Linked DNA regions of Homo sapiens: regions 1 and 3 are each linked to region 2. The links come from fine-mapping of genetic effects on gene expression. A gene starts in region 2. Each other region holds a variant in brackets. All regions are shown on one strand. Distances are from middle to middle. Region 1 overlaps ABCA5 (ATP binding cassette subfamily A member 5). Region 2 holds the start of ABCA5 (ATP binding cassette subfamily A member 5). Region 3 overlaps MAP2K6 (mitogen-activated protein kinase kinase 6).

What was found. PIP is the estimated chance that this variant, and not a neighbour inherited with it, causes the effect.
Region 1: its variant is fine-mapped to the expression of ABCA5 in whole blood (TOPMed, PIP above 0.99).
Region 3: its variant is fine-mapped to the expression of ABCA5 in pancreas (GTEx, PIP 0.97).

What each region holds. Positions count from the first base shown.
Region 1 is chr17:69,259,493-69,267,680 of GRCh38, reverse strand. It overlaps ABCA5 (ATP binding cassette subfamily A member 5), which reads left to right. Exons shown (of 39, transcript NM_172232.4): 24 at 2,776-2,946; 25 at 5,933-6,046; 26 at 6,422-6,556; 27 at 7,269-7,343; 28 at 7,884-7,975. Among named protein-coding and RNA genes, the nearest start is that of PRO1804, 29 kb to the right of the region's middle. The variant A/G (reference allele first, on the strand shown) is at 3,721.
Region 2 is chr17:69,322,209-69,330,396 of GRCh38, reverse strand. ABCA5 (ATP binding cassette subfamily A member 5) reads left to right here and starts at 3,264. Exons shown (of 39, transcript NM_172232.4): 1 at 3,264-3,345. RefSeq lists an enhancer at 2,758-2,897 and silencers at 2,978-3,357, 3,488-3,577.
Region 3 is chr17:69,463,284-69,471,471 of GRCh38, reverse strand. The region is part of intron 1 of MAP2K6 (mitogen-activated protein kinase kinase 6); the gene reads right to left. Among named protein-coding and RNA genes, the nearest start is that of MAP2K6-AS1, 18 kb to the left of the region's middle. The variant T/C (reference allele first, on the strand shown) is at 4,764.

The sequences.
Region 1 (8,188 bases), 63 kb after region 2:
AGGAAATCAAAGATGGGATTGTTCATATGACTTGCTCAGGTTGACTCAACTTGTTTAAATTGTGGATTTGGGAAGTGACTGTGATCTTTATGTTCTTAACTGGCAAACTAACATGCCCGTCCCTTTTATCCTTTAACAGAGGTATTAAGTAGTCAAGGTGCTAAATTCTTATTAATGGAAAAAAAATAGATGAAAGTGATTGTCATCATTAGGGCCTTGGAGAAATTGCTAAGTATACAGAGGTTCTTTGGTATTCTTTCACTTTCTTTTTACGCCTTTCCCTTTTGTTTTCCTTCAGGCATATAGCGATCTTGTACAGTCTTTGGTTGTTCAAAGCCTCCCACTTTTTCACTCTGCTGAGATTATATCTTACTGCTCTAATAAAAATTCTGATCTTCTTCATGGATGATCTTAATTCAGTAAAAACAAATTTGTCTAAATTAATTTACAGACTGTGATGAATAATGAGCTCATTATTTTAATAAATTCTAAAAAAATAAATTGTAGGCCAGGCGTGGTGGACCACGCCTGTAATCCCAGCACTTTGGGAGGCCGAGGTGGGCGGATCACCTGAGGTTGGGAGTTCGAGACTAGCCTGACCAACATGGAGAAACCCCGTCTCTACTAAAAATAGAAAAAAAATTAGGGCGTGGTGGTGCATGCCTGTAATCCCAGCTACTCAGGAGGGTGAGGCAGGAGAATCACTTGAACCCGAGAGGCGGAGATTGCAGTGAGCCGAGATCATGCCATTGCACTCCAGCCTGGGCAACAAGAGCAAAAACTCCATCTCAAAAATAAATAAATAAATAAATAAATAAAATAAATAAATACATTCTAATAAAAATTTTGTTATTTGTTTACTATAAAAGTAACACATATCTCTATTTTTAAAATAATATTCAATTTTTGTTAAATATACTCATTGTAGTAATGTATAAATTATAGAAAAGTATAAGGAATATAGAAATCCATAACCCACTGCACAATAATAAAATTTACTGGACATTTGCATTTTCTTTCTTGTTTCAACTGAAACATTTTTTTTCCAATATAAATTTTTTATTTTTATTTATTTATTTTTTAATTTTTTTATTTATATATATATATATTTTTATTATACTTTAAGTTTTAGGGTACATGTGCACATTGTGCAGGTTAGTTACATATGTATACATGTGCCATGCTGGTGCACTGCACCCACTAACTTATTTTTAATTAAAGTTTCTATTTTGAGATAGTTGTATATTCATGTTTGTTTGTTAGAAATGACAGAGAGATCCTGTGTACTCTTTACATTTTGTCCCAATAATAACATCTCGTAAAATTATAGTACAATGTAACAGGGTATTGGCATTGACACAGTCAAGATACAGAACATTTCTGTCACCAAAAAGATTCCCATTTTTTGCTCTTTCCTAGCCTCTCTGACCTGTGGCAACCACTACTCTGTTCTCTATTTCTGTAATTTTGATAGTTCAAAAATGTAAAATGGCATCACAATAAGTTTTCTTTTGGGATTGGCTTTTTTCAAATAGCATTTTTTTTGAAGTTCATCCTATTTGTATTTATCAATAATCCATTCCTTTTCATTGCTGAGTAATATTCCATGGTATGGATACATCACACTTTCTCTAACCATTTGCCTGTTGAAGAACATTTGGATTGTTTTCCGTTTTTGGCTTTTGTAAAGTTGCTGTGGACATTTGCATACAGGTTTTGTGTAAACATCATTTTCATTTCTCTGAGATAAATGCCCAAGAGTGCAATTGCTGAATTATACATGTTAATTTTATAAGAAATTGCCAAATTATTTTCCAAGATGAGTGTTCCATTTTATGTTATCCCTACCAGCAGTGTGTGAATGACAAAAGTTTGAATTATCCAAAATAATTGCATTTGCCTTAGCTTATGTTTTTATTCTTGTATTAGAATTTACATGTGTCTCATGTTCTCATAATTCATTGAACAGAAAACTTGCCAATTTTGTTCATTTCTCCTCTTCTTAACTAATCTTTATATTTCATGCTTCCTTTATCTCTGTGGACAGCTCTTTCATATAATACCTTCAGTTATTAGGAGTAGATATTTTTATAGATGACAAAAATCAACTAAATAAAATTGTTAGGTATTTGGATTTATGAAATATTTTAGAAATTTCAAATTAAATGAGAACATGAGATAGGAAAACTATGATCATTTGAGTTTACCATTAACAAACTTGTGACGTAAATAACACCTTAGATTTATATGCTATACCAGTGTACACAAAAGGCTTTGAACATTTCAAAAGCTTTCACTTAAGCTGAAAGCCTTATGTAAATCCAAAGGATACTTGGCAATTTATTAGTGTTTTTATTTATGAAAGGTTCATTTTTAAAACTGAGAATTCTTTTTCTGTGTAAACATGTCTTCCCATCTGTTTCCACAGTATTTCAAAAGTAGTAATGTTTTGGCTATTTATTATTTGTATAGCTGTAACCCCAACCGCCATGACACCTTTTGCTTTATTTTAATCTCAGTTTCTTGGCAGCACTACTGTATTCTGATTCTTAAAAATTTTGTTGAAATTGTTACATCTCAGAAATAATGAGCCAAATTAAAGGCTAAATGGAATTTGTATTTAGTGTGAGGGGGACTTTTATTACCTATAAGCCTGGAATGTAACCTTTTTGGTTTTGCTGATGTAAAATTAAGAGATCTACAATAATTTACTAATTTATTTGTGTGTTTCTAAAGTGTCTAAAATTATAATAAATTGTTTTTCATTTTTTTTAGATCAAAGCTTATACTCAACTTAAACTTTCAGGTCTTTTGCCATCTGCATATTGGATTGGACAAGCTGTTGTTGATATCCCCTTATTTTTTATCATTCTTATTTTGATGCTAGGAAGCTTATTGGCATTTCATTATGGATTATATTTTTATACTGTAAAGTTCCTTGCTGTGGTAAGTTAACGTTAGTTGTACTCATGCTATTTATAGATAGAATGTTATTTAAAATCTGTTATAAACATGACAGTTGACTTATTGCATAATTTGGTTATTAATTTGTTAAAGAAAATAGAGCAAGTGTGTCTGGTATTTAATACATGTAATCATTTTATATGATAAGTGACTTTTAAAAACAATAACTTACCACCATTTTAAAATAATTTCTTGAAACTAAAGTGATCTTTCATGTAGACCACCTACTTGGGTGTAATCAGGAACGTTTTAATATATTCCTTCCTTAAAATGCCTTCCTTCGTTTTTCTTATGCCTGAAAATAATTTCACAAAGGATAAGCTCTTTTATTCCATAGTTTAAAATATAGCTTAACATTTCTCTATCTCAATAATGGGCAGGCTGCGAGCCAGATGAAGAACACAACTCCATTTACAATAGCCACAAAAAATTAAAATACCTAGGAATACATCTAACAGAGGAGATGAAAGATCTCTACAGGGAGAACTACAAAACATTGGTGAAGGAATTCAGAGATGATACAAGCAAATGGAAAAAAATTTCATGCTCATGGATTAGAAGACTCAATATATTAAAGTGGCCATACTGCCCAAAGCAATCTACAGATTCAACACTATTCCTATCAAACTACCAACATTATTCATCACAGAATTTTAAAAAGCTATTCTAAAATTCATATGGAACCCCAAAAGTACCCAGATGGCTAAAGGAATCCTACATAAGCTGGGCGCGGGGGCTCATGCCTATAATCCCAGC[A/G]CTCTGGGAGACCGAGACGGGTGGATCACGAGGTCAAGAGATCAAGACCATCCTGGTCAACATAGTGAAACACCATCTCTACTAGAAATACAAAAAAATAGCTGGACGTGGTGGCATGCGCCTGTAGTCCCAGCTACTCAGGAGGCTGAGGCAGGAGAATCGCTTGAACCGGGGAGGTAGAGGTTGTGTTGAGCCAAGATCGTGCTACTGCACTCAAGCCTGGGCAACAGAGAGAGACTTTTTATCAAAAAAAAAAAAAAAAAGGAATCCATGTAAAAAGAACAAAGCCAGAGGCATTTCATTACCTGACTTCAAACTATACTATAAAGGCTCCAGTGACCAAAACAGCATGGTATTGGTACAAAAACAGACATGTAGACCGATGAAACAGAATGGAGGACCCAGAAATAAAGCCACACATCTATAGCCATCTGATCTTCAACAAAATTGATAAAAATAAGCAATAGGAAAGGACTCTGTGTTCAATAAATGGTGCTGGGATAGCTGGCTAGCCATATTCAGAAGAATGAAATTGGACCTCCACCTTTCACCGTATGTAAAAAGTAACTCAAGATGGATTAAAGATTTAAGGGTAAGACATCAACTATAAGAATTCTACAAGAAAACATAGGAAATACCATTCTGGACCTTGGGAAAGAATTTATGGGTAAATAAGTCTTCAAAAGCAATTGCAACAGAAATAAAAATTGACAAGTGGCACCTAATTAAACTAAAGAGCTTCTGCACAGCAAAAGAAACTATCAACAGAGTAAATGGATAACATACAGAATGGGAGAAAATACAAACTATGCATCCAACAAAGGCCAAGTATCCAGAATCTATAAGGCACTTAAACAATTCAGCAATCAAAAAACAAAACTCCATTAAAAAGTGGGCAAAAGATATGAACAGACACTTCTCAAAAGAAGACATGCAAATGGACAACAAATGTATGAAAAAATGCTCTACATCACTAATCATCAGAGAAATGTAAATCAAAACCACAGTAAGATACCATCTCATGTCAGTTAGAATGGCTATGATTAAAAAGTCAAAACCAACAGATGCTGGCGAGGCTGCAGAGAAAATGAAATGCTTATATACTCTTATATACTCTTGGTGGGAATGTAAACTTCAGCAGCCATGGAAAGCAGTTTGGAGAGTTCTCAAAAAACTTAAAACAGAACTACCTTATAACTCAGAAACCCCATTACTGGGTATATATCCAAAAGAAAATAAATCATTCTACCAAAAAGACACATGAGTATGTTCATTGCAGCACTATTCACAATAGCAAAGACATGGAATCAACCTAGGAGCCCATTGACCAGTGATTGAATAAAGAAAGTGTGGTACATATACACCACGGAATACTGAGCAGCCATAAAAAAGAATGAAATTATGTCTGTTGCAGCAGCACAGGTGCAGTTGGAGGCCATTATTCTAAGTGAATTAACAAAGGAACAGAAAACCAACTATTGCATGTTCCCACTTATAAATGGGAGCTAAATTGGGTAAACATGGACATAAAAATGGCAACAGTAGACACTGGGCACTACTAGACGGGGGCAGGAGGAAGGGGAGCAAGGGTTGAAAAACTAACTGTTAGGTACTGTGTCCAGTACCTAGGTGACAGAATGAATTATACCCCAAACCTCAGCATCATGCAGTATACCCATGTAACACACCTGCACATGTATCCCCTGATTCTAAAGTAAAACTAGAAATTACTTAAAATAAAATATAGCTTAAAATATCAAAGAAGAGACTGATTTGCATTCATGTTCACATGTAAATGACTGACAGCAGGCCCTTTCATTGATTACTTTATTAGGAAAAAGGGAAAACAGAGTTACATGAGGTTGATGCTGAAAGTAAATTTACCGATTTTGTCAGAGATCATAATGACCTTATATATTAGTTTCTGCCATATAAAATAATAATGTTTTTCTTACACATTAAAAAATAAAGTGCTGTATATTAAAATAGTAGCTAATATTTGAGAGAGAGAACGTTGTAGCTAGCTATACTTGCTTTTTATAATAATGAGAGATAGTATTTTACTTGGTACAAAAAACTACAAGTAGTGTTCAGTTTAAATGATTTATTTAGGATTATATTAATAATTTCATATTTTAATATGGCTAGTATTTCATGTCATGTGTATTGCAAGCTATTCATATTTTTATAGAAACATATTTCTGATTTACAGGTTTTTTGCCTTATTGGTTATGTTCCATCAGTTATTCTGTTCACTTATATTGCTTCTTTCACCTTTAAGAAAATTTTAAATACCAAAGAATTTTGGTCATTTATCTATTCTGTGGTAAGTCACATTTTACATTATTTCAACTTTCCATAGCAGTTTAATTAACATGAATTCTTTCCTGATTATACTAAAAATGTTACATGTCTTTTGTAAGTGAATAATTTAGATAGGTAATTGGCAGCTTCTTTTTGTGTGTACATTTGTCTTCTGAATCATCCTTTCCACGTAGGAACAATATGGAAGAGATTTAGCAACTAGTGTATCAAGGATACTAGCTACAAACAAGTGGTATTCTTGTTGCTTGCTGGCTAAATATCATCTCTTGTTCCATGTTTTATTAGAGGATTGAAAAAATAGTTTAATGCGTAGACACCAATTTGTAAGAAGTTTCTAAACACTTTGTCACTTTTATTTATTTATTTTTTTCTTTAGGCAGCGTTGGCTTGTATTGCAATCACTGAAATAACTTTCTTTATGGGATACACAATTGCAACTATTCTTCATTATGCCTTTTGTATCATCATTCCAATCTATCCACTTCTAGGTTGCCTGATTTCTTTCATAAAGGTAATTCTGCTAAATATTTTAATATGTTAAAAAACATAAAATAAATATGGTCTAATTTGGGGATGTTAGTTCTTGTATAGAAAACAGTAAAATGCATTGGGCTAATGGCTACTACTTGATTTAGATATTATTAATGCAGCATAAATTATTGTGAGCTCTTGTCAAACTGTAAATTCTCAAAGGAAAAGGGCTATGTTCATTACAGGTTCTCTCATGCTCAAAATGATGTATATAATTAGAAGTGTGACATGGTTTCAGTCAGTATTTGTTTTTAGGAGTTTATCAGTGATTAAATAACGTATTTCACTATAAAGGGATGAGAAAGAATAAAGTGTAAGAGATTTTCTCCAAGAAAAAATAGAGACAAAAACCAGATTGATTTTATTAAGGCTGGATAATTGAAAGAAATTTCCATGTGATTAGAAAAAATATTGTTATGAATTCTTGGTTTGGAATTGCTAATTAATTCTACTTACTAATCCTACTACCCCTGCTTCCCTTTTTAGGTCTCAGTTCAATGTGTTTAATTTATACTGATCCTCAGAAATATTTTGGGACAGGGAAGATTTTAAGTAAAAAACATAACTTACTAATATGAACAGCTAACTTATTATAGAAAGTACACGTTTGCTAAACAAAATACATTTTTTCATTTTAATCCAAATATTTCTACATATTGCAGCGTATATATTTTCAAATCTTTTTGTCTTAGATTTCTTGGAAGAATGTACGAAAAAATGTGGACACCTATAATCCATGGGATAGGCTTTCAGTAGCTGTTATATCGGTAAGAAATAAAGTGTTTTTGTGAATTAGCATGTACCTTAAGAATGGTTTGGTCCTATGGTTTTAACTATGTTTAGTTTTTTATCCTGTTGCATGAAAAAGAAGGTGCATAAAAAGTTAAGCATGTTAGTTAACGCTAGCTAATCTGTATTTCAGTGGGGAGTACCTTTCATTTACTGAATATGTTCACTTTAATATACTTAGCCTTTTACATGTTATTAATTCTGTTTAATTACAGTTCTGTCTTAGAAGCAAAAACAAAGTTTTTGTGTTCGATTATATTTTATGAAGCTGACAATAAATGAATGATACAGAGGCAGAAAATATGTGAATAATTTGCTAAAAATAATTCTGCTTTGGTTTGTATTAAAATTTATTTTTAATTATCTTTATCATGTAAAATATAAAAAAGTTGTGATTACTTCTTTTGGTAATGGCAAGGAACTTGATGTATGTAGTCTTAGTTCTGTTGGCAAAGGAAAAAACAACAACAACAACAACAAATCTTTTAGTCATGAGCTGCTACATGTTCTTCTTTTAGCCTTACCTGCAGTGTGTACTGTGGATTTTCCTCTTACAATACTATGAGAAAAAATATGGAGGCAGATCAATAAGAAAAGATCCCTTTTTCAGGTCAGTTGATTTTTTAAAAATTTTAAATGTTTTTAGTATATTTACAGAACTGTGTAACCATTACCATAACATAATTTTGGAACATTTCCAGCACTCCAAAAAGAAACTTTGTACCCATTAACAGCCACTTTCTTATCCCTATTCCCATAGCTCCCAGTCTTAGGTAACCACTAATCTACTTTCTGTTTCTGTCAGATTTGCCTGTTCTGAACA
Region 2 (8,188 bases):
AAATTTAGATTGAGATTATATGGCTACATTGTTTACAAGGTACAAATAGTTTGATAAATAACCTGTTCAAACAGACAGTAAAATATGTCAGGGTCCATACATCAATTTGTGGCAATCTTTTTATTAATAGGTCTTATTTAGTATTCCCTCTGTTAAATTATTCTTACAACTGCATTACATCTGTATTAGTCTGTTCTCAGGCAGCTATAAGTACATACCCAAGATTAGGGAATTTATAAAGAAAAGAGGTTTAATTGACTCACAGTTTCACATGGTGAGGGAAGCCTCAGGAAACTTACAATCATGGTAGAAGGCACCTCTTCACAGGGCAGCAGGAGAGAGAATGAGTGCCGAGTGAAGGGGGAAGCCCCTTATAAAACCATCAGATCTTGTAAGAACTCACCCTCTATCATGAGAACAGCATGGGGAAAACTGTCCCCAGGATTCAATTGTCTCCTCCTGGTCACCTTTGACATGTGGGAAGTATTACAATTAAAGGTGAGATTTGGTTGGAGACACAGAGCCAAACAATATCACCATCATAATTTTGTCATTCATCCTATAAGGGGAATTTGATATCTTCCCTTTTATGAGTAGGTAGCCCTTGTTGAGTGGGTGGTGACATTTTGTGGGGGAAATGAAAATATTTGAATATTCTTGCTTATTATATGTGTTTTCTCATTGGAAGCATTAATAATATTTACTGTATACTATGATGCATAGGACTTGGAAATTTAAATCGGTATAAGAAGAAGCTTTCGCCTGGGTGCTATGGCTCAGGCCCGTAATCCCAGTACTTTTGGAGGCCAAGGACAGAGAATCACTTGAGCCCAGGAGCTTGATACCAGCCTAGGCAACATGGAAAAACCCTGTCTCTACAACAAAATACAAAAACTAGCCTGTGTGGTGGCATGCACCTGTAGTCCCAGCTACTTAGGAGGCTGAGATGGAAGGATCACTTGGACCTGGGAGGTAGAGGTTGCAGTGAGCTGTGATCATGGCACTGCACTCCAGCCTGGGTGACAGAGCAAAACTTTGTCACAAAAATAAAGAAAGAAAGAAAAGAAAAGAAAAAGACAAGTCAAGAAAAAGCTCTTAACCTAAGACTATTTACAATTTAATTGAAGAGATGGTAAGTAAATAAAATGATGTGAACAAGATGGTAGTATGTAGGCAATTGGGAGGAGAGTGAGATCATTTTGTCCAGGGTGATGAGATTTTTGGAGAATTGGGTTTTGGTCATGTCATTTAGAAACAAGAGTAAAAGCATGAGCAGACAGAATGAATGACAGAGAACATTACAAGGATAAGAAATGTAAGAAATAAATGCCTAGAATAGTAGTAGAAATGAGTAGACTTCTGAAGTTAAGGCAGGTTAAGGCTACTAGTGAGAAGTGTTGGGGTGAAAGTATGGTTCAGTAACATGTTAACCAAGTTTATCTTTCATGTATATTTCTTTACTTGGCCCCAAATCCTAGGCCATTGAGAATTTGTAACTAAAATGTTCTAGATGTTTCCAAAAGAGACAGAATATATCAGGGATAGTTTTCATTACATGCCTTCTTTAGTTTCCTGGTGTAGTTTTTTGAATATACTTATCTCCCTTTCCCCCATCCCCATTGCTAGATCTTTTAATCCAGGGGTCCCCAATCCCCAGGCCAGAGACTGCTACCGGGATCTGTGGCCTGCGAGGAACCAAGCAGCACAGCAGGAGGTGAGCGGAGGGCAAGTGAGTGCAGCTTTATCTGTATTTACAGGGGCCCCCCATGGCTGGCATTAGGGCCTGAACTCCGTTTCCTGTCAGATCAGCAGTGGCATTAGATTGTGATAGGAGCGAGAACCCTATTGTGAACTGCGCATGTGAGGGATTTAGGTTGCGTGCTCCTTATGAGAATCTAATGCCTGATGATCTGTCACTGTCTCCCATCACCCCCAGATGAGACTGTCTAGTTGCAAGAAAACAAGCTCATGGCTCCCACTGATTCTACATTATGGTGAGTTGTATAATTATTTCATTACATATTACAGTGTAGTAACAGTAGAAATAAAGTGCACAGTAAATATAATGTGCTTGAATCATCCCCAAACCATCCTCCCTCCCCCAGAAAAAACTGTCTTCCATGAAACTGGTCCCTGGTGCCCAAAAGGTTGGGGACCGCTGTTTTAATCATCAAGGATTCTGACGAACCTCTTTGAATTTTCTATTTAATTCATATTCCATAAGTAAAACTTGATTCCTTGTTTGTTTGTTTTTCCCCTAAGAATTTAGAAAGCAGAGTGCATGTTGGGGAGACCTGGTTTAAATTCGAGAAGCAGATAACACAAAGACAAGTAAAAAAAAAAAACATGATGTACACAGGATTGACAGAATAAAAAAAAAGTCTTTGTGCAAGGGAATGTGACTATACAGAAATGTGGAGAGGAAAATACGTAATGTTAGTGTTAATAACTTTTGACCCCATTTAGGTCACTTTGAGTAATGAAGCTCAAAACACTAGATTATATTTTTAGCAAAGTAAGTGCAGTATCCAGTCTCTCACAGATGTCATGTGTCTCAGGCCGTTTGGAAAATTCAGCATCTGCCGCATTCCCAGTCTTTGATGAGGACACTCCGCGAACTACAAGCACCCTCAGTGGGAGGACCTCCCAGGTCGGGGTGTGAGGGCCAATGAGGAGGCTGGGGAGGGGAGGCAAGAGTTACGGAAACGGGGCCACAGCACTCCAGATGCCGCGGCGGGAGGAAGCGGGGCTGCAGAGGACTCAAAACGCGTTCAGAGAGGCCCATCCAAATGCCAGGAGACAGACGGCAAGGATGCTTAAGAGGAGACGTGACTGGGCGAGGCAGATGAGGAGAGGGCCGTGGGCCAAGGTCACCCGCTAAGAGGCGGCAGGTTTACCACTGAGACACGAGGCCGTGGTTTTTGCCCGTGCCTCCAGAAAGAGCGTGGCGAGATCCCCGCAGAACCCAGGCGTGGGAGGCCCTGGGGAAGAGCCACGAGGCCCGACTCTAGTGGCTCAGGGGCCCTGGGCAGCGGCGCGCCACCGCTCGCCCCACCCTCAGCCGCTCTCCTCTTCCGGGCGCGCTGCTTGCCTGCGTGCGCCGGGACGCGCGGGGCCGAGCGTCTGAAGCGCGCCCGTACGCGGAGCGGCGCTTTCTAGGAGCCCCGCCCTCAGGTGCGCTCTGCAGGAGGCGGGGCGCGACTTCGGCGCCGCCAGCTCTGCCTGCGCCAGGAGCGCGCGGGTGCGCGCGGCCGCGCCCTCGCACAGATCCCAGCTGGGTCACCCGCACTGAGTCAACAGACTGAGCGCGTCCAGGCCTGACAGCTCTGCGGCTCGGGCCCTGAGGTGAGGCGGGCGTCGCGGGCGGCGGCGGCGCTTGAGGCTAGCCTGGGACAGCCGTCCCTGGGGGAGTTGAGGGGACGAGGAGGGGCTGGCCAGCGAGGGACGGCGGGGAGAGAAGGGGAGTTCGGCGTCTGAGGTGTGGGGTGAAGCGGGCTCGGAAGCGGGCAGAGGCGGCGAGCTGAGGGAAACAGACCTCCCTCAGCTCCCGGGAAGCGCGGGTTGCCAGCCTCGGGGATGCGGTGGGAGCGCCCAGGATGCGGACGTGAGGGGGTCGGGGCCCTGCGGCGGGGGCTCCGCGAGGCTCCCCTGGGACCGGGTCCGGCCGTGGGACTTCGGGACACTGCCTTTGCCTGGACGCTGTCGTTCCACCCTCAGCAACCTCAGGGAAAGAAGGAAAACAAATATTGATGTAAATTTCCGTCTGAACAGCTGGGTAATGAGCGCTTGCTCTTCCCTGCGAGGTTACGCGCGGATCATTACCTTGCGTGTTAAAAGGAGTTTCAGTGAGAAGAAAATGCGCAGATCTCATGACACAGTTTGGGAGGGAAATTCCCTGATCCTAAAACACGAATAGGAGCTCCAGGCATGGAAATACTTAATTGGATCGGAAAGCTGGGCAGGCTGGAGCTATTAAGCTGAAGGAGGTTTTCCCCTGGGCTCCTCAGGCTTCGATTTACGTTTTAAATAAATAAGTCCGAAAATAATGAAGATAATAACCACGTTTACTTTCTACAAGGGCGTTCTGAAGGAATCTAAGGGAAGAGGAGTATTTGCTGGACTACAGCTTTAAGCCAGGCTCGGTATTAGCTCTTTTCATTCTGACAGCAACCCTGTAGGATTGGAGGGGGTTATTCCAGTTGGGCAGGTGTGGAGAATGGGCCTCAAAGAGGTTAAGTAACTTATTAAGGTCTCAGCTAGTAAAAGGATGGAGTTGAGATTCCAACCCGGGCTGCCAGACCCTAATTCTGGTGCTTTATTTAGTATATTTTGTGTTTGCCGGGAGAGCAATATTGTATGTGTTTTAGGGAAGACTCCATAGTAGGGAACATTATTAGGGCAGTTAGGGCTTTGTGGGTATTTGTGTTAAAATCAAACTAAAGAGGCGTTAATCTTTGCATATGTGCTGTTTGAGTATATTTCCTTTCAAACAGATTTAGTGTAGGGAAATCTTACATTCACTATAAGAGCAAATTTATTAGTACATTCCATGTGTATTGCATGTCTTTTATTTTTAAAGAGACAGCGTCTCGGGCTAGAGTGCAGTGGTGCGATCAAAGTTCACTGCAGCCTTGAACGTCTGGACTCTAGGGACCCTGCTGAATAGCTGGGGCTACAGGCGTGTGTCACTGCGCCCAGGTAATTTTTTATTTGTTTTTCAGAGACGAAGTCTTGCTATATTGCCCAGGCTGGTTTGTTGCATGTCTTTTACATTCCAGATACCATACTATGTGCCAAGAGTACCGATATGAATACAATTTATAATCTCTGTCCTTGAGTTTAGTTGAGAGGGTGATTGCATAAAAGAATTTTATGATATTGTACTAAGTCATAACTTTTCTAGTATGTAAATTAGTTGGATTAAAAATAGTTTTAAGGGCAAGCTTTTAAGGACCTATTATGCATAAGAAAATTTATTGGATGACTTGTCCTCTGTGTACCATTGCATTGTTATTTTCTCCCTCAGCAAGAAACACTGTGATAAAATTTAGGTTAAATTATATTGACAACTAGCATTTTTTTTTTTTTGAGACAGGGTCTCATTCTGTCACCCAGGATGAAGTGCAGTGGCAGGATCTTGGCTCACTGCAGCCTTGACTTCGCAGGCTCAAGTGATCCTCCCACCTCAGCCTCCCAAGTAGCTGGGACCACAGTTGTGTGCCCCTACGCCTGGCTATTTTTTTTTTTTTTTTTTTGGTAGAGACAGTGTCTCTCTATGTTGCCCAGGTTGATCTTGAACTCTTGGGCTCAAGCCTTCCTCCCACTGGGATTGCCACGTGAGCCACTGCACCTGACTGCATTTTGTTTTATTATTGCACCACCTTACAGTAAATTTTAAAGCAATAAAGAAGATGAGAGCATTTATAATTTATCCCTTTTTAAGCTAAAAGGCATATTTTGTAGTGCTTTTATTTCATTGATTGAGAAGCAAATGATGTAGCTAGGCAGGAGTTTGTTTCATGTGCCAGATATGTTCCTAATTTCTCATTCCAAAAATATCTTAGTTTAAAAGTGTAGCTAATACCAGATTGCATTTAATTTCTTGTGTTTCAGAGTTGTAATGAAATCAGTCTTCAGTTTAGGCTGAAATGGCACATTGTTGAAATGTATAACATTACTTTGTGGTGGATTTTGGAAATCTCTTTTAATTGCTTCAGTTTTCTCAGTAAAGTAGGATTCAAGGTCATAATCTGAGGGTGATCCTACAGATGGAAGCTTTGGAGATTTGGGGATTGGGAAAGTGATGGACTAGTGGAATATGTGATTGCTAGGAAATTAAACATGACTCACAGTTGTGAAAAGTACAGTAGAGGAAAGATATGAGTGCACAAATTAGGGTGTCTAATTTTGGATACCAGAAACTTCATAATCCATTCCCAATGCCTGCCTTTACCGTGTTATCTAGAACATACATCTGCACCCCTTGCTCCGGTTCACTTTGCCTTATGCCTCTGCCATATGGCAGGTATCCCTGTTCTTCACAAAAGTCAAGCCCTTTTGTTTGGGAGTCTAGCTTTACCATTCTTTTCTTTCTGCCTGGAAATTCCATTCCACTCCTTTCCAGGCTCTTTCTCTCTTATCACATTATATTAAATTTTATCTCTCTGCAAAGTTAGTGACAGTGTCTAACTTTATTTTTTTTGCCTCATAATGTTGGATGCATAAATCCTTCAGTAAATGTTAAGTGAATATGCCACTTTTCTCACTTCCCCTCTTCTTCCTTTTTACAGGAGTTGACCAACGTTTTTTGTAAAGTGCCAGATAGTAAATATTTTAGGTTTGCAGACAGTATGGTCTCTGTCTCAATAACTTTACTGTTGTAGCACAAAAGCAGTCATAGATAATACATAAATGAATGAGCATGGCTGTGTTCCAATAACACTGTATTTATAGACACTGAAATTTGAATTTCATATAATTTTTGCATGTCACAAGATATTATTATTATTTTTCAACCTTTTAAAAATGCAGAAGCAGTGTTCCTCATGGGCTGTGCCAAACAGACTGAGGGTTGGATTTAGCCCCCACCTCTTTCATCATAGTTTGCACATCCTTGATCTTTAAGGACTCTCAGGAAGCCTTGATAAAGGAATCTGTGGTAAGATGATACTGGGTTTAATATTTCCATTGGTGGTGGAGAAACAAAGATAAATAAGACTGTTGTTTTTTTCATCAAGGATCTCATGGTCAAGTTCAAGATGAAAATATATAAATAAATAATGGTGACAGGGTATAGTTACTGCAGTTACAGTTATGTTTACTGGGTATAGAGGTAAAACAAAGGAGTGATAATCAGCTCCATGTCAATGTTAATAATGACATTTAGGCAATATGATTAAAAATTGAGTTTATTTGAGCATAAAACTTGAGGATGGTCACACAGGAGGACACAGACTCCTGAAGGATGAGGTAAATGCTCCAAAGTGGAGAGGTTTGAGGGTCCTTTACATAGGCAAGGCCTGGGGATGCTTAACAGGGTTACATCATTTTTCGTACGAGGTTAGTGCATAGTTAGAGCAATTCAATTAGTTATAGGCAGTGTTTCTTTTTGGGGGAAGGGTATATTTAACATTTCACATTAAGGATGTAATGGTCAAAGGGTCTTTTATCACAGTCAGCGGTCTTTTATCCCTGGCATCATCTGGTGTGATCTAGGAACAAGAAAATAAGGAAGGAATTTCATGTATAACAAAAGGTCAGTAATTAAGAGGTCAAGCTTCATGACCCAGTCTCCAAAGTCAACCTTCAGTGCCGAACAACGTTTAGAAGCCCCAAGTAGACAGACTATCCATTTTCTGTTACATCTGCTTAGGTGGATGAGAAGTAACCTCTAACAGTCATTTGTTGGAGGTAGGGAATGTATTTTCAGCTAGCCTTTCTGGAAATCTTTTAAGGATGCTAAGAAGGTGACCACGTTTCTTATCAGGATGGCTCTAAACATCAGGATGACTCAACTTATTTATTTTATAGGGTATAATCTTAATTTGTTTCTCACAGAAATAAACATGGATATGTTTTTAATCAGGTCTCTATGAAAATAATTTAAAAAATTTAAAGTTATTTTACCTGCTACATAATAAATGGATTGTTTATTCCACAGGTATTTAGTACCTCCTCTGCTGTGCAGTGAGTTGTTTTACTAGCTGAAAATATTTGAAGGAGATAATGGTATCATTAGATAAGTGATGGATTTTGCGGGGGAGGTGGGGGAAGAGAGAGGCTCTTCTAAGGAAAGCACTGCTTTTAACAAAGGCAGTAGGTATAATAGTAGAACTACCTTAGATTTTAAAAAATACTTTATAGCTTTCAAATTTCTTATTTTAATTAATTAAATTCATGCATCCTAAATAATTTTTCTCTAACAATTATTTCTAAAGGTTATGTACATTTTTATTACTTTTAGTGATGTGGAATATGTTTCGTAGGACTTGGAACGTAGTAACCAGCACTTTTTTTTTTTTTTTTTTTTTTTTGAGACGGAATCTTGCTCTGTTGCCAGGCTGGATTGGCACAGTGTCAGCTGACTGCAACTTTCACCTCCCGGGTTCGAGTGATTCTCCTGCCTCAGCCTCCTGAGTAGCTGGGATTACAGGTGCCCGCCACCACACCCAGCTAATTTTTGTATTTT
Region 3 (8,188 bases), 140 kb before region 2:
ACTGTTTAGCTCCAGCATATAAGTGAGAACATGCAGTATTTTGTTTTCTGTCCCTGAGTTACTTCACTTAGGATAATGGCCTCCAGCTCCATCCATGTTGCTACAAAAGGCATAATTCCATTCTCCTCTGTGGCTGTATAGTATTCCATGGCATATATATACACCACATTTTCTTTATCCAGTCAACCACTGATGGATGCTTAGGTTGATTTCATGACTTTGTAAAGTTGACATTTTGAATGCTTGAGCCCACTGAAAGCTGGTGGTTGAGAGTGAGCAAAATGAAATCATACCAAGTCATCAAAGAGTATAACAACAGTTCTTTTCCGCTTAATACAGTTCATTTTTTTCCTACCCTATTTTGATAGTTTGAGATATATGCTCAATCAATTAATTTACCTGCAATGAAGTTATTATATTGAAAAACATATACTGAGCTCTTCCTGTGTGCAGGTACTGTCCTAGGTGCTGTGAATTTCACAATGAAAGCACCAGGGCCTCTGCCCCTATAAACAGCCAGGGTGAGGGTGTGTTTCAAGGCTGGTTCCTGGAAAAGGAGTGTGCATTGGGAGGTGGGGATGGGAGACGGTAAAAGGGAAAGTGAGAAGAGGCAAGGCATTCTGGTAAAGGCCATAAGCAAACACACCATCAAAAGCAAAGAGGTGTGGTGTGTCCAGAGGGCTAGGCAGAATGTGTGAGGAGGTAGTGTCAAGTTCTAGGCAGACAGCACCAGGAAACAAAAACAGAGGTAAGCAGGTAGTGCCGTTGAGGAGTTTGAAGCAAGGTTGGTATGGTCACAGTTCTGTTAGATGATGCCCTGCTTCATACTTCATTGACAAAATAAAAGCCATGAGATGGCACTTCACTTATCTCCCATCACAATGTCACAAAGCATCCAAATCCTCCATCTTCCCTTCTATACACAAGGGGGCATGTCCCTCCCATCAAAGGCCAAGCTCTCTGCTGGCTCTGGATTCATCCACTCTTGTCCTGGGAAAGATTCCAGTGCTTCCTTGCAGGGTTTCCTCCCTTCCCTGACGGATGAAGCATCTATCCTCCCTGGATGAAGGATTCCAGGGCCTCATCTTGGTGATGCTCCGAGTATCATCATCATGCTACTTTTGCCTGGTTTATTCTTATCAGTAAACATCATTTGTATTTGCCTAAAAAAATGCTTCAGTTCATTCCACATCCCCTCCAGCCATAATCCAAGTTATCTAAAGAGTTGTCTACACACTACATTGTTTCTACTTTATGGTTTTCTTTCTGCAACAGGGTCTCGCTCTGTTATCCAGGCTGGAGTGCAATGGTGTGATGAGGCTCACTGCAAACTCTACCTCCTGGGCTCAAGGGATCCTCCCACCTTAGCCTCCTGAGTAGCTAGGACTACAGGCACACACCACCATGCCCAGCTAACGTTTTGGATTTTTTTTGTAGAGATGGGGTTTTGCCATGTTGCCCAGGTTGGTCTTGAACTCCTGGACTCAAATGATCCACCCGCCTCAGCCTCCCAAAGTTCTGGGATTACAGGCATGAGGCATGAGCCACCATGCCAGGCCCATTGTTTCTACTTTCTAACTTCTGCTTTCATTGCTCCACCGACCATGATGTGGCTCTCCTTTGCCATCATATGTCCAAAAAAGCTCTTGTCAAGGTCATCAACCACCCCAAAGATACTTTTCTCTTTATTTACTTATTTATTTTTTTGAGATGGAGTCTCACTCCATTGCCCCCAGGCTGGGGTGCAGTGGAGCGATCTCCATTCCCTGTAACCTCTGCTTCCCAGGTTCAAGCAATTCTCCTGCCTCAGCCTCCCAAATAGCTGGGATTACAGGCGCCTACCACCATGCCTGGCTAATTTTTTGTATTTTTCGTAGAAACCAGGTTTCACTGTGTTGGCCAGGCTGGTCTTGAACTCCTGATCTCGTGATCCGCCCACCTCGGCCTCCCAAAGCACTGGGATTACAGGTGTGCACCACCGCACCTGGACCCCTATAGATACTTTTCTCATTTGACTCTACCTTTGTGGTAGGCAGAATAATATCCACTCCACTCTCAAAGCTGTCCATGTCCTACTTCCCAGATTCTGTGAATATGTTACCTTCCATGACAAAACGATCTTTGCAGATGTGATTAAAGTTAATGATTGATCAGGATTACTTGGATATTTTGAGCGGGCTCAAAATAGTCCTTAAAAGTGGAAGAGGAAGGTAGAGGGGTTGGTTAGAGAGATGCAATGTGAGAAGAACTTGACCAGCCTTGCAGGCTTTTAAGATGAAGGAAGGGGACAGAACTCAAGGAATGCATGTGGCCCCTAGAACCTAGCGACAGTCCTCAACTGACAGCCAGCAAGAAAACAGGGATCTCATTTCCACAATTACAAGAAAGTGGGGTCTATTCTCCCCTAGAAAATAGGTCCTGCACTCTCTGCTGCAGACCACAAGGGCCTCTGTAACACGATTCTTGCCCATTTTTCTGATCCCATCTCCCATGACTTGTTCAATTGCTCTGTGCATTAATCACTCTCTTCTAGTGTTCAGTTCTTTGAAACCAATAAGCTCTTACACATCTTTGCACAGACTGTTCATTCTGTCTGGATTGCTTGTTCAACCCGCCTTTTGTTGTTTTTGTTGTTCTGTTTTCTTTTGTTTTGTTTTAGGCTTTTTGCAGCCTGAAATCATGGTTTTTAGTTTCTCTCTCTAGTGATAAGCAGAAAAGAGGGATGATGAAGGGGCTTTACTGGCCCAACCAGAAACAGAAACTAAGAACCCATAACTGTATTCTCTCCTTTGGACACCCCTGGCTCCCTTCATTCCTCTTCTAGTTTCTTCGCACCTTTTCGAACTCAGCTTCGATGTCATCATCAAGGACAGCCCTTGTTCATCAACCCTACGCAAAGGATACCTTCCCTTTCATCCTCCACCTCAAATCCTGGTTTGTTTCCTTTGCAACAGTTTATAAACACATTAGTTATGTTTGCGTACACAGCTTTATTGGCCTTCAGTACTAGAAACTAAGTTTTGCGAGAGCAGAAACAGTGATTCGTTGGCTGTGTTATCCCAGCCTGAAAAGAGTAATTGGCTCGTAAATGGTTGTTGAATTACTTCCTTAGTCATTCTGGTGGCAGATGGAGAGTGGGTCAAATAGAGGATGAAACTGGAGTCAGGAAAACTAATTGAGAGATTACAGCAGAGGCTCAAATGAAGGATGAGAAGGGCCTGGATTGGATTAGTGATGGTAGAGATGGGGAGAAGGAACTCTGAATTACACTAAAGGTCCTTCTAGGGAAATAGCAGGTAACAACTGAGAACACTATCACAGGAGAAGCAATCTAGGAATGCGGGAAGGGGTGCACTTGGGCTGAAACAGGTTAAGATTCAGGCACCAACCAGGTAAAGAAATCCAAGGCCAGTTGTGATGGCTCATGCCTGTAATTCCAGCAGTTTGGGAGGCCAAGGCAGGTGGATCACTTGAGGTCAGGAGTTCGAGACCAGTCTGGCCAACATGGTGAAACCTCGTCTCTACTAAAAATACAAAAATTAGCTGGGCGTGGTGGCACATGCCTGTAATCCCAGCTACTTGGGAGGCTGAGGCAGGAGAATCACTTGAACCTGGGTTGTTGCAGTGAGTTGAAATCACATGCCACTGCACTCCAGCCTGAGTGACAGAGTGAGACTCTAACAAAAAAAAAACACGAAACTAAGAAAAGAAATCCAGCAAACAACTGCTTACTCAATTCTTAAGCTTCAAGGAAAAGACTGAATAAAAACTGAGATTTGGGAGTTACTGTTATACATAGATATGTACACATTAACATTTTTATAGTATGGTAGTTCCAGGATGTTCTCAGTTGTCTCACCAAGAAGTCTAAAAGCATTACTTAACAGTCAACCTAGCAACAGTGAAAATGGAAAAAGACTCAGTCCAGAGCTGTCCTCTAGAAAACCCAATCAATACACAATGAAAGGAAACTCACCACAATGGCATTTCACAGCTCCATACAATCCATTCTCCTCCCACTTTCCCCCTCCTGATTATCTCAAGCCTTCCTGGCTACAGATGGCCCACTTCCTAACAAACATCAGCCAATGAGCACCACATGGCTGTGCTCCCTGCAGAGCAGAGCAGTCAGATATCATTAAGTATTAGGTAAAACATCATCCCAGGAGTTCTCCCTGACAAGTATCAAAACACAAATTCTAACATGTTTCAGTCTCTTCTTGTACCTATTCATATATGGTACCTCGCTTACTTAATTCCATATTCTTTGCCTTATATAGAGACCCCTTTATTACTGCCTAGGATGCAGGTATGAAGAAATAATTAGTGGAACAAAACTCAGCTTCAAGTAAAGCATTAACCAGAAGGATAGAATGGGAGCCGCTGAGATTACCAGTTCATGAGTCATTACCAATTCTTATTGTAATCCATGTAAATATTAAGATGCACTTTTCTGCTTTGTTAGTATTATCTTTGCAACAGATTTCATGGTAGAACCACCATAATAAACAGATGGTACATCAAAAGTTCACTCGTTAATCTGATTGTTTAGCTCTGCATATATTTCCCAGATACACAATATTTCAATGGGGAGCCTCCACCATCAGCCCAACAAAAGCCTATTTAACTGATAACATAAGTGAATCCTAGATCTTTGAACCTGGAACAGGCCTTAAGTGAGTAGAAGTCATTTTATGAGGAAAAATGAGGAAAGATGAGGAAACCGAGGCTGCTCCAAGTCATACAATTAGTCCTGTGAATAA[T/C]GCTTTAAACCCATCCACCCAGTATAACCTGTTTCTGTAAGAAAATGCCACGGGATTTCCCGGCATTCACAGGGATTGCTAAGAGCATCTGATTTCCACTTTTGCTTTGGAATGCAAAGTCTTGCCCGGTTTCAAACCACTGGAGGGGATGCAGTGCCGATGGCTTGAGAAACAAATTCCAGAAAGGAATGGGCCAAGGAATAGAGCTGAGGGATGATAAGGAGGGTCTACACACTTTCTGGGAAAACGGAGATCATAGTAAAAGTAAAAATACAGAATACCCTCTTGCATTTTTGACTTCTTTAATTTACAATATGCTTTTCCATAGAGGAAGGGAAGATAAAGGACAAGCTACTAGAGGAAGGGGGTGGAAAGAGGAGGTCTATATATTTCTTTTTTTCTTTTCTTTTTTTTTTTTTTTGAGACAGTCTCACTCCGTCACCCAGGCTGGAGTAGTGGCTTGCTCTTGGCTCACTGCAACCTCCGCCTCCTGTTTCAAGCTATTCTCCTGCCTCAGCCTCCCGAGTAGCTGGTAGCTGGGACTACAGCTGTGCGCCACCATGCTTGGCTAATTTTTGCATTTTTTTTTTTTTTTTTAAGTACTGATGGGGTCTCATCATGTTGGCTAGGCTGGTCTTGAACTATTGGCCTCAGGTGATCCACCCACCTTGGCCTCCCAAAGTCCTGGGATTACAGGCATGAGCCACCACACCCAGCCAAAGGTCTATATATTTCTAAGAAGTGGAGGAAAAGGCTCAGAAGAATTAGAGGCACTAAAAAGCATCACCAGGGCTGGGTGCAGTGGCTCATGCCTGTAATCCCAGCACTTTGGGAGGCCAAGGCGGGCAGATCACCTGAGGTCAGTAGTTTGAGACCAGCCTAGCCAACATGGTGAGATCCCATCTCTACTAAATACAAAACATTAGCTGGACATGGTGGCACACGTCTATAATCCCAGCTATTTGGGAGGCTGAGGCAGGAAAATCTCTTGAACTCAGGAGGCAGGGGTTGCAGTGAGCCGAGATTGCACCATTGTATTCCAGCCTGGACAACAAGAGCGAAACTTTGTTTCAAAAAAAAAAAAAGAAAAAAACAAAACATCACCAGGAAGGGCACATCCCTCCTCTGCATCCCCTACCTTGTCACCTCTACCATTAACAAAATCAGCAATAAGGATGTATCAGGAGGTGGCCTTTTGTCTTTCAGCCTGCTGCCAAGTGTACAGTAGGTCGCTTCACAAACATTTGCTGATTGAATACACATACACTGGGAATCTTAAAGCAAAAGGAAGAAATGTTTACCTTTGCTGAAGTTATTAAACTTAGGTTGCTTTTGATACAAAATGCAAGAGGGCAGGAAAAATTTAAATAAGGGAAATAAGGGCAGGCTGTAACTTATAGATTTATAGAGCATAGTAATATCATTTTATTAAAGACTTTGTGTTCCAGGCAGTCATTTCAGTTAACCCAACTAGGGTACTGACAAGGACAGGATGAATCTGGAATTCTTGCCTGGATATGGTCCAATCTCGTATGCATAGATTGCAACTTAAATGAGTCCAGGTGGCTCTGACCATTAAAATAGCTACCATTCATTCAATCAACAAATATTATCAAGGAGCTATTATGCATCAGGCTCTGTGGGGGTCTGTAAAAATGAACACAATATTTATTCTCTTAAATAAATGCACAGTCTGGATGGGGGCAGTGGCTCACGCCTATAATCCCAGCACTTCGGGAGGCCGAGGCGGAGGGATCACAAGGTCAGGAGTTCGAGACCAACCAGACCAACATGGTGAAACCCAGTCTCTACTAAAAATACAAAAATTAGCCGGGCGTGGTGGCACGTGCCTGTAATCCCAGCTACTCGGGAGGCTGAAGCAGGAGAATTGCTTGAACCCGGGAGACAGAGGTTGCAGTGAGCTGAGATCACACCACTGCACTCCAGCTGGGGCAACAGAGCGAGACTCTGTCTCAAATAAATAAATAAGTACATAATCTATCAAAGATAAAAGGACATCTTACAAAAATAAGTAGCGGCGGCTAACACCTGTAATCCCAGCACTTCGGGGGACTGAGATGGGCGGATCACTTGAGGTCAGGAGTTTGAGACCAGCTTGGGCAACATAGTGAAACCTCATCTTTACTAAAAATACAAAAATTAGCCAGGCGTGGCGGCGCACGCCTGTAGTCCCAGCTACTCAAGAGGCTGAGGCAGAAGAATCACGTGAACCTGGGAGGTGGAGATTGAAGTGAGCTGAAATCGTGCCTCTGCACTCCAGCCTGGACTCGAACTCCAGCCTGGACAAAAGAGCAAGACTCTGTCTCAAAAGTAAAAAATAAAAAATAAAAATAAGTAGTGAGTGTTTATAAGGGGAAAGCACTATACTAAACGTGCAATAACTCATTTAATCTTCATGAAAATTATGTAATCAACTATTACTGTCTCCATTTGACAGATGAGGAACCTAAGACCCAGACACTGTAATCCCAGCTACTCGGGAGGCTGAGGCAGGAAAATCGCTTGAACCCAGGAGGCAGAGGCAGCAGTGAGCTGAGATCACACCACTGCACTCCAGCCTGAGCAAGAGTGAGACTCCGTCTCAAAAAAATAAGTAAATAAATTAAAAAATAAAATAAAAACATACAATATTTTAAATATTTATTTATCAATCAACAAACTGGTTTTGTTGTACTGGTGAGCCTATGCAATGTATAGCTGGAGTGCAGTGGCGCAATCTCGGCTCGCTGCAACCTCCGCCTCCCAGGTTCAAGCGATTCTCCTGTCTCAGCCCCCAGAGTAGCTGGGATTACAGGCACACGCCACCATCCCTGGCTAATTTTTTGTATTTTTAGTAGAGATGGGGTTTCATCATGTTGGCCAGGCTGGTCTTGAACTCCTGACCTCAGGTGATCCACCCACCTCGGCCTCCCAAATTGTTGGTTATAGCTTATTTTCAAAATAAAATTCTTTCTAAGTAGATTCACTAATATACATATATGTATTTGTGTGTATATATGTGTGTGTGTGTGTATATACATATATGTATGTGTATGTATGTATATACATATATGTGTGTGTGTATATATATAGAGAGAGAGAGAGGGAGCTAGCTACTCTGGGGGCTGAGACAGGAGAATCGCTTGAACGTGGGAGGTGGAGGTTGCAGCGAGCCAAGATTGCGTGTGTATATATATATACATATGTGTGTGTGTGTGCATATATGTGTGTATATATATACACACATACATATATGTATATTAGTGAATAATATACTTATATTCACTATTATATAGTGATATATATACATATAATTATAGATACACATATATATACACATACATATATGTATATTAGTGAATAATATACATATATTCACTATTATATAGTGATATATATATACATATAAGTATATACACACACAT